3 separate regions of the Homo sapiens genome follow, and regions 2 and 3 are each linked to region 1. The links come from fine-mapping of genetic effects on gene expression. A gene starts in region 1. Each other region holds a variant in brackets. All regions are shown on one strand. Distances are between the middles of the regions. Region 1 holds the start of SLC25A23 (solute carrier family 25 member 23). Region 2 has its middle 5.7 kb from the start of DENND1C. Region 3 overlaps SLC25A23 (solute carrier family 25 member 23).

Region 1 (5,972 bases):
ACAAGAGTGAAACTCCATCTCATAAAAAAAAAAAAAAATCTGCATTGAATCACAGCTATACGAAATATAGCCAAGGCTGGGCATGGTGGCCCACGCCTGTAATCCTAGCACTTTGGGAGGCCGAGGCAGGTGGATCACGAGGTCACGAGTTCGAGACCAGCCTAGCCAAGATGGTGAAATCCCCGTCTCTACTAAAAAATAATCAAAAATTAGCTAGCGTAGTGGTGGGCGCCTGTAATCCTAGCTACTTGGGAGGCTGAGGCAGGAGAATCGCTTGAACCCTGGAGGCGGAGGTTGCAGTGAGCCGAGATCACGCCACTGCACTCTAGCCTGGGTGACAGAGCAAGACTGTCAAAAAAAGAAAAGAAATATAACCAAATGGATACATACCACCAGGGTGGACAGTATCTCTATAGAACACGCCTGCATTATCATCACAAACAGCTAACTAAGGCACTCTGATGTGGAATAGACCTGTTTTAGGAACATATCTGCATGGCTCACCTATGAAATGTACGGCACTTGCATTGGGGGAATTCCTGGGTGTCAGTGTCTTGTAAATACCTGTATGAGACACACCTGCATTTACGTAAACCTGTATGGGACTCGGTTGTATGGAAACATACCCAGATGGGTGTATACTTAACTGAAACACACCTACGGGGCGGGAGACTGTAGAATGCATTCATGGGTGGAGGGAAACCTGCTCAGAAACATACCTGTGAGGTAAGAGAAAGCACCTTGTAGGAGGAACACCTGTATGGAATTGAGCTCAAGTGAGGGGAAGAACTTGGAACATCTGCACGGGGCACACTCACATTGACACACATCTGTGGGTAAAACCATCAGGGCAGGGGCTCACATACACTGAGGCCCACCTGTCAAGAATGTATCTGTGAGAAAACACCTATTTAGGGGCACTTACATGGAAAAAAACCTCTGTATCACTCCATGCTGTATGGCACCTGCAAGGAACAACTGTAAATGAAAACCTCTGCTGGGGAGCCTCTTAGAAGAGACTCATTTGTCTGGGGCACACCTGTTCCAGCACACCTGTCTAGGCAGAGGCTGGGCGTGAACTAAATATGCCCTCACGACTGTATCTTTGTTTTCTTTCCTTTTTAAAAAAAATAATAATAATTATTATTATTATTTGTAGAGTTGGGTGTCTTGCTATATTGCCCAGGCCGGTCTCAAACTCCTGACCCCAAGCGATCCTCCCATCTCGGCCTCTCAAATTGCTAGAATTAGAGGCCTAAGCCACCGAGACCGGCCAATGCTGTATCTTTGGATAAAGGATGATGATAATAACAAGACCCCCTCCTGAGGACCCTTGGGTGACAAGTGATGATTAAAGAATAATTAGGCCAGGCCGGGCGCGGTGACTCACGCCTGTAATCCCAGCACTTTGGGAGGCTGAAGCGGGAGGATAATCTGAGGTCAGGTGTTCGAGACCAGCCTGGTCCACAGGTGAAACCCCCCCCCCCCGTCTCTAATAAAAATACAAAACTCACGGCTGCGGTCGGGCATGGTGGCTCATGCCTGTAATCCCAGCACTTTGGGAGGCCGAGGCGGGCGGATCACGAGGTCAGGAGTTTGAGACCAGCCTAACCAACATGGTGAAACCCCGTCTCTACTAAAAATACAAAAATTAGCCGGGCGTGGTGGTGTGCGCCTGTAATCTCAGCTACTTGGGAGGCTGAGGCGGGAGCATTGCTTGAACCCGGGAGGCGGAGGTTGTGGTGAGCTGAGATCGTGCCATTGCACTCCAGCCTGGGCAATAAGAGCGAAACTCCATCTCAAAAAAAAAAAAAAAAAAAAAAAAAAAAAAAAAAAAAAAAAAAAAAAACTCACTGCTGCGTGCGATGGCTCACGCCTATAATCCCAGCACTTTGGGAGGCTGAGGCGGGCGGATCACGAGGTCAGGAGTTCGAGACCAGCCTGGCCAACATGGTGAAACCCCGTCTCCACTAAAAATACAAAAATTAGCTGGGTTTGGTGGCGGGCGCCTGTAATCCCAGCTACTCGGGAGGCTGAGGCAAAAGAATCGTTTGAATCCGGGAGGCGGAGGTTGCAGTGAGCCGAGATCGCGCCATTGCACTCCAGCCTGAGCAACAACAGCGAAACTCCGTTTCAAAAAAAAAAAAAAAAAAAAGATAATTAATTCTTTCTAGGGTATAGAGTGATGGTTAAGGATCCCAGATCTCTTTAAACCCTGTTTTGCCCCTTAGTGGTCATCAGGACTGGGGAGAATGACTTAACCTCCGCTTCCTTATCTGCAAAGTGCGAACGCCAGTACCACCTACCTTATAGGGTTTTGGCAAAGACGACTCGAGAGGTGAGTAAAAGCCCTGGCATGTGCAAAGCACTGAATCAAAGTGAGATTTGTTATCGAGTATTCGCTGTCAAGTGGTCTGGGCTCCCTTCCCCCTAATGGTGGATCGAGAAACTGCGCCCGAAACTAGCAGTAGGGACATTCCGCAGGTGCAGCGAGTGCGACAGGCTGGGGCCCTGCCTCCAGCGCTCGACCACTGGGATCCTCAACCCCGCGCCCGGGTCACTGAGCCACCCCCTCCCCACGCCGCTCAGCGTCTGATTGCGGCCGCGGCCCCTTTAAGATCTCCTGGCAGGCGGTGGGACTGCGGGCTGGAGGCAGTCGGGGGTCTGCGGGGAGGCCCCGCCTAGGTGGGAGAAGAGGCGGGGCGGGCGGGCTCAGCCCAGGAGGCGCTGACCAATAGGAAACCGACTTTGCAGCCGCGCCGCGCGTTGATTTTCTGTTTCCCAGTCAGAGTGGGAACCGAGAAAGGAAGCGCGCGGGCGGGAAGAAGGGACAGTGGGAGAGCATCGCTCCTGGATCTTCTGTTTCTGCGGCCGAGCGGGGAAGGTGTAAGGCGCGGGCGGGCAGAGAGCGAGCGAGATGGTGCACGGTTCTTGCGTGCGTCTGGGAAAAGCGAGAACTTGAGTTCCTGAAGATTAGTGGGTGTGGCGGGGAGGTCAAGTGGAAGGGGATTATGAAACCCAATCCCCGACAGCGCTCTACCTTGCCCCCTTGGGCAAAGGGGGAAAGGGTAAACTGAGGCACGCAGAGGCGGAACTCTGAAACCAGACCTGAGACCACTGAGCTCCCTAGCCCGTCTTCCCAGAAGGAACTCTGGTGTTCCTCGGCTGTGCAATACCAGACCATCCCAGACATTCCCTCCCCACGCCCCCAGCTCCGCCCTCGGTCCCCTCCCCCCAATGCAGGTCGGGGGAGGAGACGCAAGTTCTGGCGCGGGCGGCGACGGCTAGCCGTCACCACCTCCCGCAAGTGCCAGAGCCGAGCGGACTGCGCGGAGGCTGCGGAGCCGGCGGCCGCGGGAGCTGACCCTGCGGGGTCCCGGGGGGGGAGGGGGAGCCGCGAAGCCCCCACTGAGGCCGCCGCTGCCGGGCCTCCCCTCCCCCCCGGGCGGGCGCCATGCGGGGGAGCCCGGGCGACGCGGAGCGGCGGCAGCGCTGGGGTCGCCTGTTCGAGGAGCTGGACAGTAACAAGGATGGCCGCGTGGACGTGCACGAGTTGCGCCAGGGGCTGGCCAGGCTGGGCGGGGGCAACCCAGACCCCGGCGCCCAACAGGTACCCCCACCCCCAGGGACCTCCTCCCCTCCCGGCCCCGCCCGCTCCCGGTTACCCAAGCCCCTGAACTGGGCGGCCGGAGCCACCAGGGACTACCTGTGGCTGGACTCCAGAACCTGTGTCTCTGTCTCGTTCCCCCTACCCACTCGTGTTTGGCCTAACGGGATCGCTCAAGACAGGGACGCCGAGGCCCCAAGCCTGCAGTTCCGCGGCCAACACCCGATCCCCCTGCTGCGGGGCAGGGGGCGTCTGCCTGGGAAGAGATGGGGGCGCTTTCCTGCCCACTGCCCGGGACACACCCTCCTCCAGACTGCACAGCCCATGACGTGCCCTGCTCTCACCTCCAGGAGACACACCCTCCATCCTCTGGGCACCTACTGCCCTGGCCTGCAGCTGCCCCGATCCCTGTGTTTACATTCCCTGGCCTGCCCTTTCATGGGCCGTTCACGGGCCTGGCTCACTGTCCCGGGCTGCCCCAGCCAGGGACCCAATCCTGTCTGCGGTCACCCGCAGCTGGGAATGCACCTATAACAAGACTTTCCTCCCGCTGCCCCCACCTCCACTTTGCAGGTCCTTCCCACACCTGTAGCCCCAGATCGCTCTAAGAGAACCACAGCAACCCTGAGAGCAGTCCAACCTCCCACTTCCCAAATGGGAAAAACCAAGGCCTCAGCCACTCCGCTTGGTTCTCTCCTGCCCCACATCGCCCAGGGCTTCCTCCAAAGGGAACCCCTGGGTCCCCCATGTGGACAGGGTTTTTTAAGAGGCAGCTGGGTTCAACAGGAATGAGATACCTAAAAAAATAACAAAAACTAAAAACAAGAGACAGCTGGAAGGACAGGCTTTACAGATGAGAACTGAGGTTACCATTTCCTGGTTCTGTGACCTTGAACTGGTGACTTGACCTTGCAGAGCCTCAGTTTGCTCACCAGGAAAACTAGACCACTCACACCCACCGCACAGACCTGTGGTGGCTGTAGGGATCTGGCTGAGAAGTTAGCTGACTGAGGGAGAAGTGGGGTGACGTCTTCTATCCCCTTCCTCAAGGCGCTGGGGGCTCTGGGTTCCTAAGGCATAAGGTGACATGCGTCCCCTCCAGATCAGGAGCAGGTTCCTGGAGCCACCTCTATCCCCTTTCCCTCTGTCAGGGTATCTCCTCTGAGGGTGATGCTGACCCAGATGGCGGGCTCGACCTGGAGGAATTTTCCCGCTATCTGCAGGAGCGGGAACAGCGTCTGCTGCTCATGTTTCACAGTCTTGACCGGAACCAGGATGGTAAGGTCGGGCGACCTGCCTGCAGGCCCCAAGGGATAGGGCTGTGGGGGCCCTAGAGACATCAGTGGGGTTAGAACTGGCAGCGCTAGGAGGAGAGGGGGAGGGCCGCTTCTCCCCGATGACTCATAGGCTATTTCAGGAGCACTCCTCACCCCCTAGCTAGGTGGTTCGAGGCCCAGCCAGCCCATCCCACCTCCTTTCCCTACTGGGGCAGAACCCCGATAATTACCCTTAGATTTTTCTATGGGGCAAAGATACCCTATGCTGTTCCTGGGTCCCCTGTGGGACAGAGATCCCCTCATAGCAGCATCTGGGTTGTGGATATTGCCTCTCAATCCCCCATGGCATAGAGACCCCTACAATTACCCCTGGATTCCTTCATTCATTTACAGAACAGAGAAGCCCCCCCAGTATTTCCCAGTTCCACCTCTCTGACCCCAGTGAGTCAGGGGTCCCCCCACAGCCCTACTGCAAACCTCCTCCTAGGTTTCTGGAGCCCCTGATCTTGCTAGACCACCTCCATTCCAAGCTGTTCTGATCCTTGGTCCTGGGGTTCCCCAGGTGTCCTCACACGCACATCCTTCCCCACCTCCGGCCCCCTCCCCAGGTCACATTGATGTCTCTGAGATCCAACAGAGTTTCCGAGCTCTGGGCATTTCCATCTCGCTGGAGCAGGCTGAGAAAATTTTGCACAGGTGAGTCGCTGGGGGTCTGGAATCCAAAGTAACTCAGGACACAGTGACCCCTTGGCCATCTCTGTCTTCTGGGCTCCAGACCCAGTCCCAAGGAGGATACAGCTGAGAGGTTGGGGCTTTGAAGTCAGACAGATCTGGCCAGGCGCAGTGGCTCACATCTGTAACCCCAGCACTTTGGGAGGCTGAGGCAGGTGGATCACCTGAGGTCAGGAGTTGGGGACCAGCCTGGCCAACATGGTAAAACCCCATCTCTACTAAAAATACAAACATTGGCCAGGCGTGGTGGTGCATGCCTGTAATTCCAGCTACTTGGGGAGGCTGAGGCACGGGAATCCCTTAAACCCAAGAGGTGGAGGTTGCAGTGAGCCAAGATCAGGCCAGGACACTCTAAC
Region 2 (5,972 bases), 27 kb before region 1:
GAAGGAAAGAAAGAAAAGAAAGAGAGAGAGAAAAGAAAGGAGGGAAGGAAAGAAGGAAGGAAGGAAGAAAAGAAGAAGGCAAGAAGACAGGAAGACAGGAAGGAGGGAAGTAAGGAAGGGAGGGAGGGAGAGAAGAGGGAGGAAGGAAGGAAAGAAGGAAGGAAGGAAAAAATGAAGGAATAAATTACAATTTGCCACACAAAGTCACTTGCCCATGGTCACATGGCTACTAAACAGTGAGCTGGAATTCAAACCCTGCTAGTTGAACCCTAGAATCCTGACACAGGCAGCCAGAGTTCCGTGTGGGGACCATTCTAGGTATATTAAGCAGACAGGAACTTAATACAAGAATCGATGGTGCTTGCAAAATCACTGGAAGACGCTGAGAGAGTGGGCTGTGTAGGCTTCTCAAATTTTACCGTGCAAAAGAATCAGCAGAACAACTTGCTAACGCACAGTTTCTTCAGTCTCACCCCCTCACAGTTGCAGATTCAGTAAGTAGGTCCGGGGTGGGGCTCAAGACTCTGCATTTTTAACAAGTTCTCAGGAGATGCTAAAGATGTGTGAATAAGACCACAGATTGAGCAGCCCCGGAATAGGTAGGACCCTCGTGACACCACAGAGCTGGGTCACCAAGGAGCAGCTCCTTTGTATAGGGAGAAAGGTGGAGAACAAAGAGGCAGTTACCAGAACTATGACCTGGAAATGGGTCCAACAAAGAACACGAATTCATGAAAATAAAATGTATAGCTCCACAACCCTGCTTCTCAGCAAGATATACACACAAGCCCACACTGCCTCACTTCCACTTTCTAAATCTCTCATGAGCATTTCTCATTGGTAGAACCAATTCTGCATCCAGAAACGGAGCAGCAAAGGCATCTGGGAAATGTAGGGGTTGGAGGGGTTTTTTGCAGCGTCTGCATTAGGAAGACGAGCCAGGGGCAAGGGTAGGTGAGAGGGGGACACGCGGAGAGCCAAGCAGTAACGTCCACCACTCTATGCTAGACACCAGGCACCCAGGCTGGAGCCTCAGTCTTCTTGCTACGTCCCCCTGCAGCCAGGAGTAAGGAGAGGCATGAGGGAAGCAGCGTGGACATCAGCCCACGGCAACTTCAGCAGGCCCAGCACAGCACAGCACAGCACTGGGTGGTAGACCAGCAATACAAAGGATTTAGGTAGCAGCATAATGGATAGATCTGGGTTGGGTTCCCCACTCAGCATCCTCCTTCCTTGCACAAGGCACTTAACTACTCAGAAGTGTACGGACTTTTTATTTGCTTTTTTGTTTTTTGTTTTTAGTTTATTAATTATTTATTTATTTATTTATTTTTGAGATGCAGTCTCGCTCTGTTGCCCAGGCTGGAGTGCAGTGGCGCAATCTCGACTCACTGCAAGCTCCGCCTCCCGGGTTCACGCCATTCTCCTGCCTCAGCCTCCCGAGTAGCTGGGACTACAGGCGCCCGCCATGACGCCAGGCTAATTTTTTGTATATTTAGTAGAGATGGGGTTTCACCATGTTAGCCAGGATGGTCTTGATCTCCTGACCTTGTGATCCACCCGCCTCGGCCTCCCAAAGTGCTGGGATTACAGGCGTGAGCCACCGCGCCCGGCCTATTTATTTATTTTTGAGACAGAGTTTCGCTCTTGTTGCCCAGGCTGCAGTGCAGTGGTGCGATCTTGGCTCACTGCAATCTCCACCTCCCAGGTTCAAATGATTCTCCTGCCTCAGCCTCCCAAGTAGCTGGGACTACAGGCACCCACCGCCACACCCGGCTAATTTTTTTTTGTATTTTTAGTAGAGACGGGGTTTCACCATGTTGGCCAGGGGCTGGTCTCGAACTCCTGACCTCAGGTGATCGGCCCGCCTTAGCCTCCCAAAATGCTGAGATTAGGTGTGAGCCACCACACCCAGCCTGGTTTTGTTTGTTTCTTTCTTTCTTTTTTTCTTTTTTTTAAAGTATTTCCCCAAACTTTGATGAGGCAGTTGCTTTGGGGGGTTCAACATTTTTTTTAGTCTCCTTCTGTCACCCAAGCTGGAGCGCAGTGGCACAATCATGGCTTACTGCAGCCTCGACTTCCTGGGCTCAAGTGATCCTCCTACCTCAGCCTCCCAAGTAGCTGGGACTACAGGCATGTGTCACCATGCCAGCTAGCTTTTCTGTAGAGATGGCGTTTCACCATGATACCCAGGCTGGTCAGAGGCTGAGGTGGGAGGATCCCTGAGCTCAAGCAATCCACCCACCTCGGCCTCCCAAAGTGCTGGGATTACAAGAGCAAGCAACCGCGTCCGGCCAGGTGTAGGTTTTTTTGTGTTTGTTTTTGAGACAGAGTCTCACTCTATTGCCTGGAGAGCAGTGGCGTGATCACGATTCACTGCAGCCTCGACCTTCTGGGCTCAAGTAATCCTCCCACCTCAGCCTCCTGATTCGGAACTACAGGCGTGTACCACCACACCCAGCTAATTTTTAATTTTTTTTTTTTTTGAGGTGGAGTCTGACTCTGTCGCCCAGGCTGGAGTGCCATGGCATGATCTCAGCTCACTGCAACCTCCACCTCCCAGGTTCAAGCGATTCTCCTGCCTCAACCTTCCGAGTAGCTGGGATTATAGGCATGCGCCACCACACGTGGCTAATTTCCATATTTTTAGTAGAGATGGGGTTTCACCATGTTGGCCAGGCTGGTCTTGAACTGCTGACCTCAGGTGATCCACCCATCTCAGCCTCCCAAAGTGCTGGGATTACAGGCGTGAGCCACCACAGCTGGCCTGCACCCAGCTATTTTTTTAGATTTTTTTATAGAGACAGGATCTTGATATATTGCCCAGGCTGGTCTTGAACTTCTGGCCTCAGGCGATCCTCAGGCTTCAGCCTCCCAAAGTGCTGGGATTACAGGCGTCAGCCACCATGCCTGGCAAAGTTAAGGATTTTAAGATAACAGGATTATGGCAAATTATTTGGGTGGGTCCAATACAATCACAAGGATCTTTATAAGAGGGAGACAGAGGATCAGAGTCAGAGAAGAAGTGAGGACAAAAGCAGGAGTCCCAGCAAGTGAGAGAGATTTGAAGATAAATGCTACTGGCTCGGCCAGGCACTGTGGCTCACACCTGTAATCCCAGGACTTTGGGAGGCTGAAGCACAAAGATCTCTTGAGGCCAGGAGTTTGAGGCCACCCTAGGCAACATAGCAAGACCCTGTCTCTATGAAAATTGTTCCAATAAGTTAGCTGGGTGTGGTGGCACATTGCTGTAGTCCTAGCTCCTTGGGAGGCTGGGATGGGAGGATAACATGAGCCCAGGAGTTCGAGACTATAGTGAGCTATGAT[G/A]GCACCACTGCACTCCAGCCAGGGCAACAGATGGAGACCCTGTCTCTCAAAAAAATTAAAAATAAAAATAAAAAGGCTAGGCGCAGTGGCTCACACCTGTAATCCCAGCACTTCAGGAGGCTGAGGCAGATGGATCACCTGAGGTCAGGAGTTCCAGACCAGCCTGGCCACATGCTGAAACCCCGTCTCTACTAAAAATACAAAAATAAGCCAGGCGTGGTGACGGGTGCCTGTAATCCCAGCTACTTGGGAGGCTGAGGCAGGAGAATCGCTTGAACCTGGGAAGCGGAGGTTGCAGTGAGCCAAGATCGTGCCATTGCACTCAGCCTGGGCAACAAGAGTGAAACTCCGTCTCAAAAACAACAAAAAAATTAACGATGTGTGGTGGCTGTGCCTATAACCCTAGTTGCTCAAGAGGCTGAGGTGGGAGGATCACTTGAGCCAAGGAGTTACAGGTGGCATTGAGCTATAATGGTACCACTGCACTCCAGCCTAGGAGACACAGAGAGGGAGACCCCATCTCTTAAAATAATTAAAAAAATAAAAACAGGCGGCCGGGCGCGGTGGCTCACGCCTGTAATCCCAGCACTTTGGGAGGCCGAGGCAGGTGAATCACTAAGTCAGGAGATCCAGACCACCTTGGCTAACACGGTGAAACCCCGTCTCTACCAAAAATACAAAAAAATCAGCCAGGCGTGGTGGCGGGCACCTGTAGTCCCAGCTACTCGGGAGGCTGAGGCAGGAGAATGCCATAAATCTGGGAAGTGGAGCTTGCAGTGAGCCAAGATCACGCCACTGCACTCCAGCCTGGGCGACAGTGAGACTTCATCTCAAAAAATAAATAAATAAATAAAATAAAAATAAAAACAGGCTGGGCACTGTGGCTCGTGCTTGTAATCCCATTCACTTTGGAAGACCGAGGCCTGGGGATTGCTGGAGGCCAGAAGTTCAAGACCAGACCAGGCAATAAAGCGAAACCCCATCTCTACAAAAATATTTTTTAAAATTAGCTGAGCTGACCAGGCACGGTGGCTCATACCTGTAATCCCAGCACTTTGGGAGGCCAAGGCGGGCAGATCACTTGAGGTCAGGAGTTCAAGACCAGCCTGGCCAACATGGGGAAACCAGATCTCTACTAAAACACACACACAAAAATTAGCCGGGCGTGGTGGCGGTCACCTGTAATCCCAGCTATTCGGGAAGCTGAGGCAGGAGAATTGCTTGAACCCAGGAGGCAGAGGTTGCAATGATTGCGCCACTGTACTCCAGCCAGCCTGGGTGACAGAGCAAGGCTCCGTCTCACAAAAAAAAAAAAAAAAAAAAAAAAAGGGCCGGGCGTGGTGGCTCATGGCTGTAATCCCAGTACTTTTGGAGGCCGAGGCGGGTGGATCAGTGGATCACGAGGTCAGGAGTCCAAGACCAGCTTGGCCAAGATGGTGAAACCCCACCTCTACTAAAAATACAAAAATTAGCTGGGTGCGGTGGCAGACGCCTATAATCCCAGCTACTTGGGAGGCTGAGGCAGGAGAATCGCTTGAACCCAGGAGGCAGAGGTTGCAATGAGTGAAGATCGTGCCACTGCACTCCAGCCTGGGTGACAGAGTGAGACCCTGTCTCAAAAATAAAATTAAATTAAATTTAAAAAAAAAAACAGTTGTGTGTACAGTAGCACACAACTGTAGTCCCAGCTACTCAGGGGGCTGAGGTGGGAGGATCACTTGAGCCCAGGAGGTCAAGGCTACAGTGAGCTATGATGGCGCCACTGCACGTCGGCCTGGGTGACAGAGTGTGACCCCATCTCTCTTTTTTTTTGGGTAGGGGGATGGAGTTTCGCTCTTATCACCCAGGCTGGAGTACAATAGCACGATCTTGGCTCACTACAACTCCCAGGTTCAAGCGATTCTCCTGCCTCAGCCTCCCAAGTAGCTAGCTACATAGCCACGCATGGTGGTACAGATCTGTAGTCCCAGCTACTTGGGAAGCTGAGTCAGGAGAATCACTTGAACCTGGGAGGCAGAGGTTGCAGATATTTTGTCATAGCAGCCTTAATTTTTTTTTTTTTTAACATAGAGTCTTGCTCTGTCACTCGCTGGAATGCAGTGGTGCAATCAAAGTTCACTGTAGGCTTGAACTCCTGGGCTCAAGTGATCCTCCCGCCTTAGCCTCCCAAGTAGCCGGGACTACAGGCGCTATCACCACACCTAGCTCAAACCTCTTTTTATTTATTTATTTATTTATTTTTATTTTTTTATTTTTTACTTTCCCGAGACAGAGTCTCTCTCTGCTGCCCATGCTGCAGTGCAGTGGTGCAATCTTCACTCACTGCAACCTCTGCCTCCTGGGTTCAAACAATCCTCCCACTCAGCCTCCCAAGTAGCTGGGACTACAGGTGCACACCACCATGCCCAGCTAATTTCTGTATTTTTTGTAGAGACGGGGTTTCACCATGCTGCCCAGGCTGGTCTCAAACTTCTGCCTCAAGCAATCCACCCCCCTCAGCCTCCCAGAGTGCTAGGATTACAGGTGTGAACCACTGCACCCTGCCAGAGCCACCGCACTGGGCCTCAAGCCTCTTTTATAAAGGCATTAATCCCACTGTTGAGGGTGGATACCTCTTGACCTCATCACCTCCCAGAGGCCTCACC
Region 3 (5,972 bases), 21 kb after region 1:
ATCCAGATCCTGGATCCTAGACTCCTATGCCCCAACCACTGGGTCATGCGATCCCCACCCTTCAGCCACTAGATCCCAGATCCCCCTGTAACCATAACTGTGGATCCCTTACTTCAGCAACTCAAGTCTGCTACCCTAACCACAAGATTCAAGATTATCCACACCCCAGCCCTTAATCCCCATCCCCCAAATCACTGGATCCTGCAGCCCCACATCCTAAGGTGGATCCCACGCTTCCCTGTGCCCCCTACTGGATCCTGGACCTCTACGTCTTAACCACTGGATCCCACACAAATCAGTGAATGGATCCCAACACCCCAACCACAGGAGCACGGATTCCCTGTACCTCAACACCCAGACCCTGCCTCCCTCAGGCACCAGATCCAGTGTCCTAGTGAAACGCTGGATCCTAGATCCCCAACCCCAGATCCCCATGCCTCGAGCCCTGGATCTCCAAGCTCAGCTGCTGGATTCTGGATGTCAACAAACCTCACCACTGGATCCTGACAACCACAATGCCTGGATCCTGGGGCCCCCATCACTGGATCCCAGATCCCCTCACTCCACCCACTGGATTCCTGCATTGGTTTTTGGTTTTTTGTTTTTTTTTAACCTCGACACTGGGTCTCAGATCCTTCTGCTGACTGCCAGATCCCTGCATTTCAAGCACTACGCCTTCCACCCCCAGGCACTGGATCCCAGATTCCCAAGCCTTCACCCACCAGATTCTGGCTCCTAAAACAAGTGCGGGGGCCCCAGTGGCACAGCAAGTGGATCCTGGCAACTGCAGCTGCTGGATTCCAGATTCTGGGTCCCCAATCCCTCTGCCCAGTCCCTCAATGTTGAAACCTCATCTCTTGAAGGCAGATCCTGATATTCCAAGGCACTGAATCCCAAGCCCTGAATCCCCGGTTTCTGATCTGAATCTTCCAGGCGCCGGGTCCCAAATGTTCAGGCCCCAAGTCTAGATCCTGGCAGCCCAGTCACAGAGTATCCCACACACACTGGTGCCCAGAGCCGGCTTCTCATGACATGAAATTGCATGGTCGAGGGAGTCTGTGGGGAAGGAAGCCCAGGTCCTGGCTGCAACCTGCACGGATGCTGGATTCCCCCTCACCCCACCTCTGCATGGCCACCCCCTCCCAGCCCTGTGGGGAAACTGTTCCCTGGAACCACTCCACTCCCTGCATCCCCACACTTCACAGCATCTTCCATCCCCCTCCCACCTTCTAGGCGAATAGTCCCCAGAGCTGTGTTCCTCCAAGGGGTCCGAGGAATCACTCACTCCTGGAGGCTGGCAAGGAGACAGTCTGAGGCCAGGGACACATGAAGGGATGTCCCCACCCCAGCACTATCAGGGCCTCCCCAGGCTTCCAGAGTTGAAAGCCAGGAGAAAATCGGCAAAGACCACCCTTCCCTAAACCCAAGCACCCAATGATGCAAAAAACAAAAACAAAAAAAAACCACCAAATCCCCAAATTCATTCCAGATCTATTTTTCTACCAGAGAGAGGAGCAAAGTCCTCCTCCCCTGCGCCCTTACATTCTGCACTTCATAGTTGGATTCTGAGCTTAGGATCATCTGGAGACCCCATGGAGGGACTTGGAAAGGGGAACTGGGATTTGGGGAGGGGCTGGAGGACTTCCGCACGCTTCCACCTCCTTCGACCTCCACTGCGCCCCACCTCCCTGCCTGTGTGTGTTATTTCAAAGGAAAAGAACAAAAGGAATAAATTTTCTAAGCTCTTTTATTGTGGTTTTTACTGAAAAGGGGGTGGGTGGCTATGGGACCACCTTAGTCTACCCCTAGGGAAGGGACAAGGGGCTGCTTCCCAACACCCACAGTTCCAAGAGCCAGGAAATGATTCCCTCTTTGAGCCTCAGTTTACACATCTATAAAATGGGAGCAGGGGAGGGAGTCCCTGTTTATAACCCCTTCTAAATTTTCTGGGCTTTATTATTTTTATTTATTTATTTATTTTTGAGATGGAGTCTCACTCTGTTGCCCAGGCTGGAGGGCAGTGGCACGGTCTCAGCTCACTGCAACCTCTGCCTCCCGGGTTCAAGCGATTCTCCTACCTCAGCCTCCTGAGTAGCTGGGATTACAGGCACCCACCACCACGCCCGGCTAATTTTTTGTATTTTTAGGAGAGACAGGGTTTTACCATGTTGGCCAGGCTGGTCTCGAACTCCTGACCTCAAGTGATCCACCTGCCTCAGCCTCCCAAAATGCTGGGATTACAGGCGTGAGCCACCACGCCCGGCCTCTGTATTTTTTTTCAAATTACAAATTTCAATTTTTTTTCAAATTATCCTTTTCCTAGGGCTGCCAGACC[A/C]AATTATCACAAACAGAATGGCTTAAAACAATTTGTGTGTCTGTGTGTGTGTGTGTGTGTGTGTGTGTGTGTGTGTGAGAGAGAGAGAGAGATAGGATCTCACTCTGCAGCCCAGGTTAGAGGGTAGTGGTACAATCGTACCTGACTGCAGCCTCGAATTCCTGTGCTCAAGCGATCCTCCCACCACAGCCTCCTGAGTATCTGGGACCACAGGGACCGCAGGCACACGCACCGTTATGTCCAGCTAATTTATTTTTGAGACAGGGTCTCGCTCTGTCACCCAGGCTGGAGTGCAGTGGTGCGATCTCGGCTCACTGCAGCTTACACCTCCTGGGCTCAAGTGATCCTCCCACCTCAGCCTCCCAAGTAGCTAGGACTATAGGCAACCACCACCATGCCCAACTTTTTGTTTGTTTCTGTGCTTGCTTGTTTGTTTGTGATGCAGTCTCGCTCTGTCGCCCAGGCTGTAGTGCAGTGACACGATCTCGGCTCACTGCCACCTCTGCCTCCCAGGTTCAAGCAATTCTCCCACCTCAGCCTCCCGAGCAGCTAGAACCACAGGCATATGCCACCATGCCTGGCTAATTTCTTGTTTGGTTGGTTGGTTTTTTGTTTTTGTTTTTTTTGATATAGGAGTCTTGCTCTTGTTTCCCAGGCTGGAGTACAGTGGCTCGATTTCAGATCACTGCAACCTCTGCCTTCCAGGTTCAAGCGATTCTCCTGCCTCAGCCTCCAGAGTAGCTGGTATTACAGGTGCGCACCACCACACCCGGCTAATTTTTGTATTTTTAGTAGAGACCAGGTATTCCCGTGTTGGCCAGGCTGGTCTCGAACTCCTGACCTCAGGTGATTTGCCTACCTCAGCCTCCCAAAGTGCTGGGATTACAGGTGTGAGCCACCGTGCCTGGCCTAATTATTATTACTTCTTTTTTGTGGAAATAGGATTTCATCATGTTGCCCAGGCTCATCTCGAACTCGTGGGGTCAAGGAATTCGCCAGCCTTCAGCCTCCCAACGTGCTGGGATTACAGGTGTGAGCCACATGGTCCTTGGTGTTCCTTGGTTTATGATAGACTCATCACTCCACTGCCTGCCTATCTTCATACTGTATGCTCCCTTATGTGTGTCTGTGTCTCTCTGCCCAAATTTCCATCCTTTTTTTCAGATGCAGTTTCGCTCTGTTTCCCAGGCTGGAGTGCAATGACGTGATCTCAGCTCACTGCAACCTCCGCTTCCCGGGTTCAAGTGATCCTCCTGCCTCAGCCTCCAGAATAGCTGGGATTACAGGTGCACACCACCACAACTGGCTAATTTTTGCATTTTTAGTAGAGACGGGGTTTCACTATGCTGGTCTTGAACTCCTGACCTCAAGTGATCCACCCGCCTCGGCCTCCCAAAGTGCAAATTCCAAGTTTGTTTTTTTTTTTTTTTTTGGAGTGCAGTGGCACGATCTCGGCTCACTGCAAGCTCCGCCTCCCGGGTTCATGCCATTCTCTTGCCTCAGCCTCCCAAGTAGCTGGGACTACAGGCACCCGCCACCACAGCCAGCTAATTTTTTTTTTTTTTTGTATTTTTAGTAGAGATGGGGTTTCACCATGTTAGCCAGGATGCCTCCCAAAGTGCTGGGATTATAGGCATGAGCCACCGCGCCCGGCCTTTTTTTTTTTCTGAGATGGAGTCTTGCTCTGTCGCCTAGGCTGGAGTGCACTGGCGCGATCTTGGCTCACTGCAAGCTCCGCCTCCTGGGTTCATGCCATTCTCCTGCCTCAGCCTCCCAAGTAGCTGGGACTACAGGCACCCGCCACCATGCCCAGCTAATTTTTTGTATTTTTAGTAGAGACGGGGTTTCACCATGTTAGCCAGGATGGTCTTGAACTCCTGACCTCGTGATCCGCCTGCCTCAGCCTCCCAAAGTGTTGGGATTACAGGCGTGAGCCACTGCGCCTGGCCGATTCCATGTCTTGTAAGGACAGCAGTCATCGGATTAGGGCAACCCCCCCCAATCCAGTGTAACCTCATTTTAATTTGATTATATCTACAAAGACCGTATTTCCAAATAAGGTCACATTTGCAGGTTACTGGGGTTAGGGCTTGAACACATCTTTTTGGGGGACAAAGTTCAACCCACAATGAGTAATTCAAATTTATTGTGGAAAAAATAGAAAATTCAGGGTGGGTGGGGTAGCTCATATCTGTAAACCCAGCACTTTGGGAGGTCGGGGTGGGAGGATCGCTTGAGGCCAGGAGTTTGAGACCAGCCTGGGCAACACAGTGAGACCCCATTTCTACAAAAAATTTTTCAATTAGCTGGGCATGATGGCATATACCTGTAGTTCCAGCTGCTCAGGAGGCTGAGATGGGAGGATGACTTGAGCTCAGGAGTTCAAGGTCACTTGAGCCCAGGAGTTTGAGACCAGCCTGGCCAACATGGTGAAACCCCGTCTCTACTAAAAATACAAAAATTAGCCGGGCATGGTGTCACATGCCTGTGATCCCAGCTACTCGGAAGGCTGAGGCAGGACAATCACTTGAACCCAGGAGGTGGAGGTTGCAGTGAGCCAAGATTGGTCCATTGCACTCCAGCCTGGGTAACAGAGCAAGACTCCATCTCAAAAAATAAAAAAATAAAAGATTGGGTGCAGTGGCTCACGTCTATAATCCTAGCATTTTGGGAGGCCGAGGCGGGTGAATCACCTGAGGTCAGGAGTTCGAGACCAGCCTGGCCAACATGGCAACCCCGTCTCTACTAGAAGTACAAAAATTAGCCGGACGTGGTGGCGGGCACCTATAATCCCAGCTACTCAGGAGGCTGAGGCAGGAGAATTGCTTGAACCTGGGTGGCAGAGGTTGCAGTGAGTCGAGATTGTGCCACTGCACTCCAGCCTGGGCAACAAGAGCAAAACTATGTCTCAAAGAAAAAAAAAAAAAGACACTGTCGCTGCCATCCTGGTTATTGGTTACATGCTCTCTCTCTCTCTCTCCCCCTTTCTCATAACATTTGCTCTGGAGGAAGCCGGTGGTCATGCCATGAGCAGCCTTATGGAGAGGACCATGTGGTAAGGAACTCAGCCAATAGCCATGTAACTGAGCTTGGAAGAGGATCTTGCTGTCCTGGCCAACATCTCACTGCAATTCTATCAGTTGAATTCCCTGGATAGTCCAAGCTTTGTGGATCCCTCCACCGAAACAACTGGATCCCAGTACCTGAATCCTGAATCTTAGACTCTTATACTTCAAACACTGATCACGGGAACAGCCGGCTCAGCGGCTCCTGAGTTCCTAATGCTCAGAATATGGGTGAGATGATAAATGTTTGTTGTGTTAAGCTGCCAACCTTTGGCGGGGGGGTAATTCGTCACATGGCAACAGCTGGCTAATACATATATACCTACATGTATATGATTTTGTCAGGTTTTTTGTTTGTTTGTTTGTTTGGTTTCGGTTTTGGTTTTTGAAACAGGGTTTCACTCTGTCCCCTCCCCAGGCTGGAATGCAGGGGTGCAATCATGGCTCACTGCAGCTTCAAACTCCCAGGCTCAGGTGATGCTCCCATCTCAGCCTCCGGAGTAGCTGGGACCACAGGCACACACCACCATGCCTGACTACTTTTTTTGTTTTTTAGAGACTGGGTCTTACTC

Evidence for each region. PIP is the estimated chance that this variant, and not a neighbour inherited with it, causes the effect.
Region 2: its variant is fine-mapped to the expression of SLC25A23 in whole blood (INTERVAL, PIP above 0.99).
Region 3: its variant is fine-mapped to the expression of SLC25A23 in left ventricle (GTEx, PIP above 0.99).

Annotation. Positions count from the first base shown.
Region 1 is chr19:6,457,111-6,463,082 of GRCh38, reverse strand. It overlaps SLC25A23 (solute carrier family 25 member 23), which reads left to right and starts at 3,291. Exons shown (of 10, transcript NM_024103.3): 1 at 3,291-3,610; 2 at 4,759-4,885; 3 at 5,493-5,580. The coding sequence starts at 3,455. RefSeq lists silencers at 2,600-2,779, 3,290-3,429, 3,480-3,539.
Region 2 is chr19:6,484,481-6,490,452 of GRCh38, reverse strand. No RefSeq gene overlaps it. Among named protein-coding and RNA genes, the nearest start is that of DENND1C, 5.7 kb to the right of the region's middle. RefSeq lists an enhancer at 501-770. The variant G/A (reference allele first, on the strand shown) is at 3,328.
Region 3 is chr19:6,435,840-6,441,811 of GRCh38, reverse strand. It overlaps SLC25A23 (solute carrier family 25 member 23), which reads left to right. Exons shown (of 10, transcript NM_024103.3): 10 at 1-1,748. It also overlaps a transcript of SLC25A41 not described here. Among named protein-coding and RNA genes, the nearest start is that of SLC25A41, 5.1 kb to the right of the region's middle. The variant A/C (reference allele first, on the strand shown) is at 2,336.